Linked DNA regions of Homo sapiens: region 2 is linked to region 1. Evidence: fine-mapped expression QTL. Tissue or cell type: lung. Region 1 holds a variant in brackets; the other region holds the start of a gene. All regions are shown on one strand. Distances are between the middles of the regions.

The links. PIP is the estimated chance that this variant, and not a neighbour inherited with it, causes the effect.
Region 2: FREM3 starts here. The variant in region 1 is the best candidate, but not a certain one, in a credible set for the expression of FREM3 in lung (TOPMed, PIP 0.54).

Annotation. Positions count from the first base shown.
Region 1 is chr4:143,962,167-143,966,381 of GRCh38, forward strand. All of the region lies in intron 9 of LOC105377459 (a long non-coding RNA gene), which reads left to right. All of the region lies in intron 3 of LOC101927636 (a long non-coding RNA gene), which reads left to right. Among named protein-coding and RNA genes, the nearest start is that of GYPB, 55 kb to the right of the region's middle. The variant G/A (reference allele first, on the strand shown) is at 2,126.
Region 2 is chr4:143,698,159-143,702,373 of GRCh38, forward strand. It overlaps FREM3 (FRAS1 related extracellular matrix 3), which reads right to left and starts at 2,517. Exons shown (of 8, transcript NM_001168235.2): 1 at 1-2,517. The coding sequence starts at 2,517. RefSeq lists an enhancer at 1,884-2,541.

The DNA of each region.
Region 1 (4,215 bases):
AGGAGTTGTGGGCCATTATTCGTGGACCTTCTGATATTTCAAGAGAAGTAAAAATATTTTGTATGAAGTCTACTGTTTACAAAATATTGTCAATTAATTGACATTAAACAAATGCCGTGCAGGACAAACAAAACTAGCCCTTGGACCAGAAATGTTCTATGGGTTTATAGCTTCAACACTGGAACATCTCTCAATATGATCAGTTGTGGATTATATACTTTTACTCTTTTAAGCACTTATTTTAAGGGTTTAGTGGGGTTCAGGTAGAATATGGTTATTGCTTAACTCAGTTTACTACTGCTACCTAAAACCATGGTTGATATTTAACTGGCTTGTGTTAAATACATTGCGTTACCAAGTATTCATTCTGATTGAGTGGTACCATGTGGTCAAAGGGGTTAAAGTTTTTGAACATTATTTCTGCCCCAAGTTAATAAACAACACTTCTTACCAGCATGATTTAGATATGGGTTTACCTGTACATTGGGAGTTTTTTCCAAGTGTGTTTATTCCAAGCATTGTAGAATTTCTCAGTTCCTTATAAGGCTATCTTAGAGACTTAGATTATAATATTTTCAATAATAATTTGTCAGACTGTATTCTCAGTCATTCAATTTTGGGATATTATTTGATGACTCCCCCTCAGAAGCCTCTTTTAATGACTAGTCTGACTGACATTTGGTGAAAAAGCAGTAGTTTTTCTTCATCTGTATTCTTCAGAGAATCATCGAATACTAGCTGTCCCTTCCATTTAGGTATTGCTTTTGATAAATTAATTGATGAATTGTCTTCAGCTTAATATGAATATAATTAGTTCAATTGTCAATTATGTTAGACTTTTAAAAGAGTGTTCTGAATATGTGATCATATGACATACTATTTGTAACATGCTTTTTTTTCACCCCCAAATAACAATTTACAGGATCTCAATATTGAGGCCAGAAGAGATTACATAGAGATTATAGGCTCTGCCTGTAATCCCAGTGCTTTGGGAGCCAAGATGGGAGTATTGCTCGAGGCCAGAAGTTTGAGACAAAGCTGGGCAACATGGCAAGACCCCATCTCTACAAAAAATTAAAAAATTAGCTGAGTGTGGTGGTACATGTCTGTACTCCTAGCTACTTGGGAGCCTGAGGGGGAGGATCACTTGAACCCAGGAGTACAAGGTTACAGTGAATTATGATCATACCACTGCACTCCAGGCTGGGTGACAGAATGAGACTCCATTTCTAAAGTTAAAAAGTGTATATATTGAAAAAACTTACTTGAAAACTTTTAGAGTAGAAATTATCTTTATAGTATCTAATCTATCCAGTCAAATGAGCTGGCAGTGGAAGGAGCACTGGACTTAGAGTCGGAAGGCATGGCCTTTTCTCTTTTGCCAATCAATGTGACATTTAGATTTTCATTATTATCATTATCATTATTATTATTAAGATTTAAAAAAATTGTGGGCTAGAAATGTAACTTTCTTCGTGGCAGAATTTTATACTTATTTTTATTTCATATGTGCTCTTCCAACTAAGAAAGAAAAAAACTACAGCTCTCTGGAGCCTGTAGTGTTTGAAACTTATTAGCTCTGTTGCCTCTGGCTACAGAAATCAAAAAGGAGTTTTTCAAGTTGCATTCAGAAAAGCAGTCTGTTTTTCTGACCTGCAGTGTTGCTAGTAATTGTAAGCCAGGTGTTACTCTTGGAAAATGATAGTACTCATTATTTTAAAATAGTGTGGTGTGGAGGGCCAACTGTAAGACCTGGAGCTGTTTGCTGTTTACACACATGCGGACAACTTCTCTGGTCAAAAGTGATAAACAAATGAATCTTTCAGCCTCCATTCTTCAGCCTCTCAAATATATTTCTGAAAAGGGCATCGTTCCAGGGTTCTCTCTGAACAACTCCCACCCCTGAAGTTGAAAGTCTTGACTATTTCAATGTCCTTCCCTTGCATCATATCGCCTGGGCAGCACGCCCTTACTGTTGTTGCTTTGTTAACTGTTAGATACTGAGTTATATTAACATCAAAGGGCATAGGGAATCAGAAATGAAGCCTCCAACTAACAATATGACAAAGCTGATCTACCAATACATCTTTGATTTGGTTTTAAGAGGTTGCAGTGGAAGTGGATA[G/A]GAGGTATGAAATTTCTGATTCCAACTTGAGTCTCATTCTAGCCCGTGCCTTGGGGATGTCTATAAAGCTGAGAGGGAGGAAAATTGAGGGGGAAAGGAAGAGGGAGGAAAAGGTAGAGGAAGAGAAAGAAAGAGGAAGACAGAAGAAGAGAAACAGGGAGAGAAGGAGATTGCCTGATCCTGATCCATAGTATAATAGCCTCCCTAGCCTGATTACAGTTCTGCTTTTACACTTAACCACTGCTCTTTTGGGTACTGGCTATTGAGGAACAATACCCTAAATTTTCCTGAAAGTTCTTTCCAGCTGAGAGCATCTCTAGGCACTGGCTTAATTCTTTCAAAGTCTCATGGCCACACCCTTGATTTTTATCTTTACCTTGAGGCCAATCTTAATGTGAAAATATTTTTCTGGCCTGAGACAGCAAAGATGAAAAACAACTTTAGTTTCTATTCTAATAAATTCTAGCATCTCTTAATTCCTCATATTCTCCTTGTAAACTGTGTGTGTGTTTTTGTCGACATTTGTTTCTTTCTTGTAGTACTTTACATACAACTAGTAAGAGTCAGCTGACATTTTCAACATTCTGCCTGGAGATCAAGTCCAAAAATTCGTAAGGTACATTTTGCATCTTCAAGTTATTTTAAGTGACCAGTTCTAACAGATGTTTCATGCCGACGTAGCATGGGTGATCATTTTTTCACTTTGTTCTAAGAGTTGCCTCATCATTTTTCCAGGCTTTGTTAGTGGTATCATTGACACTTTTCCAGCTTCTGTTTGCTACCTACTTCATCCAAAGCTAATTCCACATATGTCTGTTTTATGCTACAGTAGCACGTTCCTTATAGGTACTAATTACCTATTGCCATAATAATGCTGCATAATAAACAACACAAAATGCCTCTTGAAACAATAAAAATTTATTTAGTGCATGAGTCTGTGGGCCAGCAACTTGGTTCTTCTGGTCTCACATGCATGGAAATGGGTTGCATATTAGCTGATCTAGTATAACTCATCTGGGATGATTGAGATAACCTGGTTCTGTTTTACCTTCAGTAGGTTAGTAGGTTAGTCCAGGTATGTGTCACAGCAAAGTCAGAGGATTAAGAGACTGTTAGTGTGAAAGATTTTTTCAAGCCTCTGCATGCATCTGCTCTTGTCCTGTTGGCCAAAGCGTGTAAGATGGCCAAACTCAGAATCAAAGCGCAAAGAAGTACACTCCTCTATAGTGAGAGGAAATGCAAAGTCACATGGCAAAGGGCATAGATACAGGAAGAAGTTAAGTGTTGGGCCATTACTGCCATCAGCCTGCCAAATGATCTCGCCCGTATTTAATATGGGACAGTACCTCACCCATATTCTTTGGACTTCATTATTTCAGCATGCTCCAAGGAGACAGTGACTTCCAACTGTCAGTATTTGTATCCTCTTCCCAAGGTTTTCCTTCTACTAAATAAAGGACCAGTCTGCCCATGCAAACTCCAGGCTGGAGGTTCTAGGGAATTAGCCCTGTCTCCACTTGACATATTCAATTCAATCCTCAAACAATAAATGATAGGAGTTGGTTTATGAAAATGCCAGCTTTCTTATCCCTCTAGTTGGATAATTTGTAGGCGTATATTTTATACAATTTTCCAGAGCTCTAACGTATTAGGCACTGGTAGTGCACAATGGTAGCTGGCTTCGTAATACAACTTTTATCCTTGGCCAGTTTCACTTATGTACTCTCCTAATGCTTAATTCTCTAAAAATAAATTGCTTACACTTGAAATCTTTTCTGTTTTCTTTTTTCTTTTTCTTTTTCTTTTTTGTATTTTGAGATGGAGTTTCGCTCTTGTTGCCCAGGCTGGAGTGCAATGGCACCATCTTGGCTCACCTCAACCTCCACCTCCCCAGTTCAAGCAATTCTTCTGTCTCAGCCTCCCAAGTAGCTGGGATTAAAGGCGTGTGCCACCATGCCCAGCTAATTTTGTATTTTTAGTAGAGACGGGGTTTCTCCTGTTGGTCAGGCTGGACTTGAACTCCCGACCTCAGGTGATCTCGCTCACCTCGGCCTCCCAAAGTGCTGGGATTACAGGCGTGAGCCACCACA
Region 2 (4,215 bases), 260 kb before region 1:
GATAGCAAAGCCTCTGTTGGTGACTTCTGGGGGCTGGTTGTCCACAGGTTGCAGGAATAATGTGAATGTGCCTGGCACGCTATTGCCTGCAGCATCTTCCACCTGGTAAGTAAACTGCACAACCCGTGGTGCAATACCCAATTTCTGTGGAGGCTGGTAGGCAACTTTATGCTGATTTACCTGGGCTTGGGTAAAGTGCATGATGAGTGTGTCTGGTGAATCAGTGAGCACAATTTCTCCAGCCCGGACTTGGTGGTTGCCATCTGTGTCAGTCGGGAGTGTCAGTAGGGTGTACCATAGGTTCTGGTCATCAGAGTCCTGGTCAATGTATCGGAGGAAATTCTTCTGGAAGTGAGTGAGTTGGTATTCTTGTACAGTCATTTCTAGTGTAGTTCCTGGATACAGCTGTGGACTCAGTATATCCACTGGTTGGACCTTGATGGTGAAAATGTGCTGTTTGGAGAGATTGGGTGGGTCATGGTCATCCTGCACATGGAAAGCCAGCTGGACCATTACAGATTGAGGGCTGTGTGGTCCAAGATGGCGGTAGAAGAGTCTCCCTTCCATTATGTCTCTCTGTAGCCACTCAGTCACCACTTTCTCATAAAGCCCTTCCTTTTCCATGTAGTGCCAGTCTTCATCTTCAGTTGAGAGAGGTAGTTCAGCCTGCTGCAGCAACAGGTCCCCCAGGTAGTGGCCTGAGTGGGAGGAACCAGGGGCCAACTCCCACTGAGGCTCTTCCTCATTTCCTTTTAGGGGCTGGTTCTCCAGCACAAAGTGGATGGTTGAGTCCTCAGAGTCAATATCAGTAGCACTCAGTACAAAGGGAGAGATCTGGACCACCTGCCCTTCAGTGAGTGAGAGTCCTGTGTTAGTATTGACCATTGGTGGTTCATCATCCACAGGTAGGATGGTGAGGGGAAAGAGGAAGTCCACTTGGTGGTGCCCGTCCTCCATCCGGAAGATGATATTGTCACTGTAGGTGTTGCTGCCATCATGCTGATACACCACTCGCCCTGCTGCCAGGTCCGCTGGTGTGAAATACTTGCACCCAGCAGGTGCCCCAAACACCACCAGCTGCCCATGTCTCAAGCCCCTGACTGCAGCCATTTTCACCTCTTCCAGGTTATCTTTATCACTGATAGGAATGCTGTGGGTGCTGGACAAGGGCCTTGACTGACCTTCAAAAAGCACAAGTCCCCTGTTATGGCTAGCCACTGGGACCAGAGTATTCATGGATTTCACTGTCACCATGAAGGCAAAGGGGTCTGAGGCGGCGCCGTCTCCGTCCACCACCTCCAGCTCCAGCTGAAAGAGGCGCTCCCCATGGGAGTTCTCTGCAGGGGGCTGATAGGCAATCTTCAGCTCCCTCAGCTCCTGCTGGGTGAAGAAGGAGACTGGAAGCCCTAGAGGGTCGTCGGTGCTGACCACGTAGCCCTGTTGCCCCGGGTGCCCTGGTGGGTGAGTGGGGGCGTTCAGAATGTTGAACACCAGGTCACCAGGGTCTGACTCGACGTCCTCCGCGGCCAGTGCGTCAGGCGTCAGGGCTGTCAGCACCAGTGGATCCACCTCCATCATCATCGTGGCCATGAAGCTGGGCCTGGGCGGTGTGTTCTCGGCTCCGCCGCGGATCCTCACGAGCAGCTGGAAGTGCTCGCGGACCAGCACACCCGCGGACCCAGCGTCTTGGCCCTCAGGCCCCAGCAGCTCCACCATCATGGGCACGTAGTCACGGTTGGGCGAGGAGGTGGCTGTGTGCTGATAGCGCACCCCAGCACGGAGGAAAGCCTCACAGTCTACGCCCTTGCCCCTGGGGAGAGGGGCCCCCACCGCGTCCACCAAGCGCCCGTACTTGGGCAGGGGGCCGTCCTCGTGAGGAAGTGGGGTAAGCCGGCACCTGCGGGTGGCCGTGGCTCCAGACTTCAGGGAGGCGAAGTCCAGCACTCTCCTGTCTATGGCGCGGCTCCAGCTTCGCAGCTTCTCCACTACCAAAGGCCTGTTACGCGTCACCAGCTCCAGCTGGGAGAAGACCAAGTCCACCGCCAGCGTGAAGGGCAGCACCAGAGTGTGAGTCGGGGCGTCGTAGCGCAGCTGCAGCAGCACCCGGGCGCGTCCGGGGCTGTGGGAGCCGAAGTGAGTGTACTGGACTTGGCGGGGCCCGAAGGTGCAGGGGAAGCGGCGCGGGGAGAGCGCGCCCTTGAGCCGCGGCAGGGCGTCCAGTACCGTGACTTCGCACCGGTCCCCCGGCTGCACTCCAATCACCAGATCCCGGAGCGGGTCGAGCCAAAGGGAACGACCCAGGGGCACCCGGAGTCCAGGGTTGGCAATCAGCACGCTGGGGCCGTCGGGGCGAGTGCCGTCAAGCGCACCCCGGGCGGGCAGGTAAAGCGCCGGGTCGGGCTCGGTCCCAAGTGAGGATGCCCGTCCCTGCAGCGCGGGGCGACTCAAGAGCAGGCAGGCGAGCGCCACAAGGAGCTGCCGGGGCGTCCCAGTCGGGTGCCGAGAAGCCCCCGCCATGGCCACGGATGGCTCCTGGCGTTGGGATTCCCGGGGTGGGGTGCCCTGTGCAAAGAGGGATCTGCTGAGCGGCAGGTGCAGGCAGTGGAAGCAGTAGCTGCTGTCCAGTCGGTAGCCGACTTGCGGATCCAGCAAGAGCCAGCGGCTGCGCTTCGGCTGCTGCAGGTAACGGCAGCGGGGGAAGGGGCTCTGCCCACTTCCTGCTCAGCCCCGGTCGCAAGTCTCTCTCTGCTGGCTTCTGGGGACCCCAGATACGCGCCCAGCGCGGCGAGACTTAGCGAGGGTGCAGCGCTGTCCCCTCCGCTCCTGGGCGCTTCACCCAGCCTACCTTACACACCTTCTCGCCGGGAGCCGTGGCCGCCGCACTGCTGCCCGCGCTGCCAGACTCCGACCAGCTGTCTGGATACTCTCTTCCCCAGGTGCCACAAAGGGATTGTCCCTCAGGGTTGGGAGAGAGACGGTGACTGTACTCGGGTCAGTCCTGCGTCTGTGAGATTGAGCTCCTGTTGTCCATTCATCCAGGGATTGGTGTTTCTGAAAAGGGGGAGAGACACCATTCCTCTTCCTTACCGCTGACAGGAGTGTATCTTCTAGCCAAAAACTGAGTCTCACTTCGGACATAAAAGAAGCTGGTGGGAGCTATTTTGCAAATAGGATTTTCTAGCTGTCTGTCTGATGAAGCAGCTTATTCAGGATCTTGTAATTCGGTGCTTCCAAACAACCCTGACGTTTTTCTTCTGCTCAGGTTTTGAAAAAGAAAATCAGCACCCAAACTTACTTGAACAGCTTGTAATCTGGGTTTTTTTTTTTTTTTTTTTTTTTGTCATTGGGTCTCACATAACAAAATCAGGTGTGCGGCTCGGCTTCCTTTCGTTTTCTTAGAATGTGGTTTCCATATCTGATCAACAATGACTTGCCTGTTAGTTTATTAGACATGCTGTTTTCTAATTACTTTCTTCGTAGACAGTAGCCAGAGGGGAGGATGTCAAAGGAAACAGTAGCAGAATACTTGGATCAATTTCTGTGGCTCAATCATTTAACACCTGGAATCAGTCTCTTCATGGCTTTCAGATGAAGGTGACTATGGATGTAGTGTTAGGTACTTAACAGAATCCTATTAATTTTTTAAGTTTTAAAATAGCCAATTTAGTTACAGTGCAGAGTAATCTTTTTCTATAAATAAAGTAGTAGTAATAGTAACGTGCTTCCTTATAAAATTAATGTGAATGTGAGAGACTTTTTGATGACAGTAAAAATAGATGTCTACAAACTATATTGATAGAAATGGCTTCAAGGGGGAATAGAAATCTTTAAATGTTATCCCCATGTTATTCTTTTAGTTTTTTACCGTGTTACAAATGCCTGTTTTATTCACAGCAGCAACGGCATCAGCTGATTTTCAGGGCAAGAATAATCTGCTAGTGACTTGAAAGATTTAATTTTCTCTCTAAACATTTAATTTAATCATCCAGTGAAATGCTATGGGTCTATACAATTCACTTTAGTTGAATGTTAGTGTGCCCCATTAGCACACAGATTTGTTCATATAACAGAATTTTGAGATAATAAGTTTGAATCAATATGTGTTTAGCCTAATGATACAGTATTAGTTCAGTGTATCTGGAAAAATATTATTTAAAAATATATTTCTAATTGAAACACAGGTAAAGTTTCATTGTAAATGAGTCATTATATTAT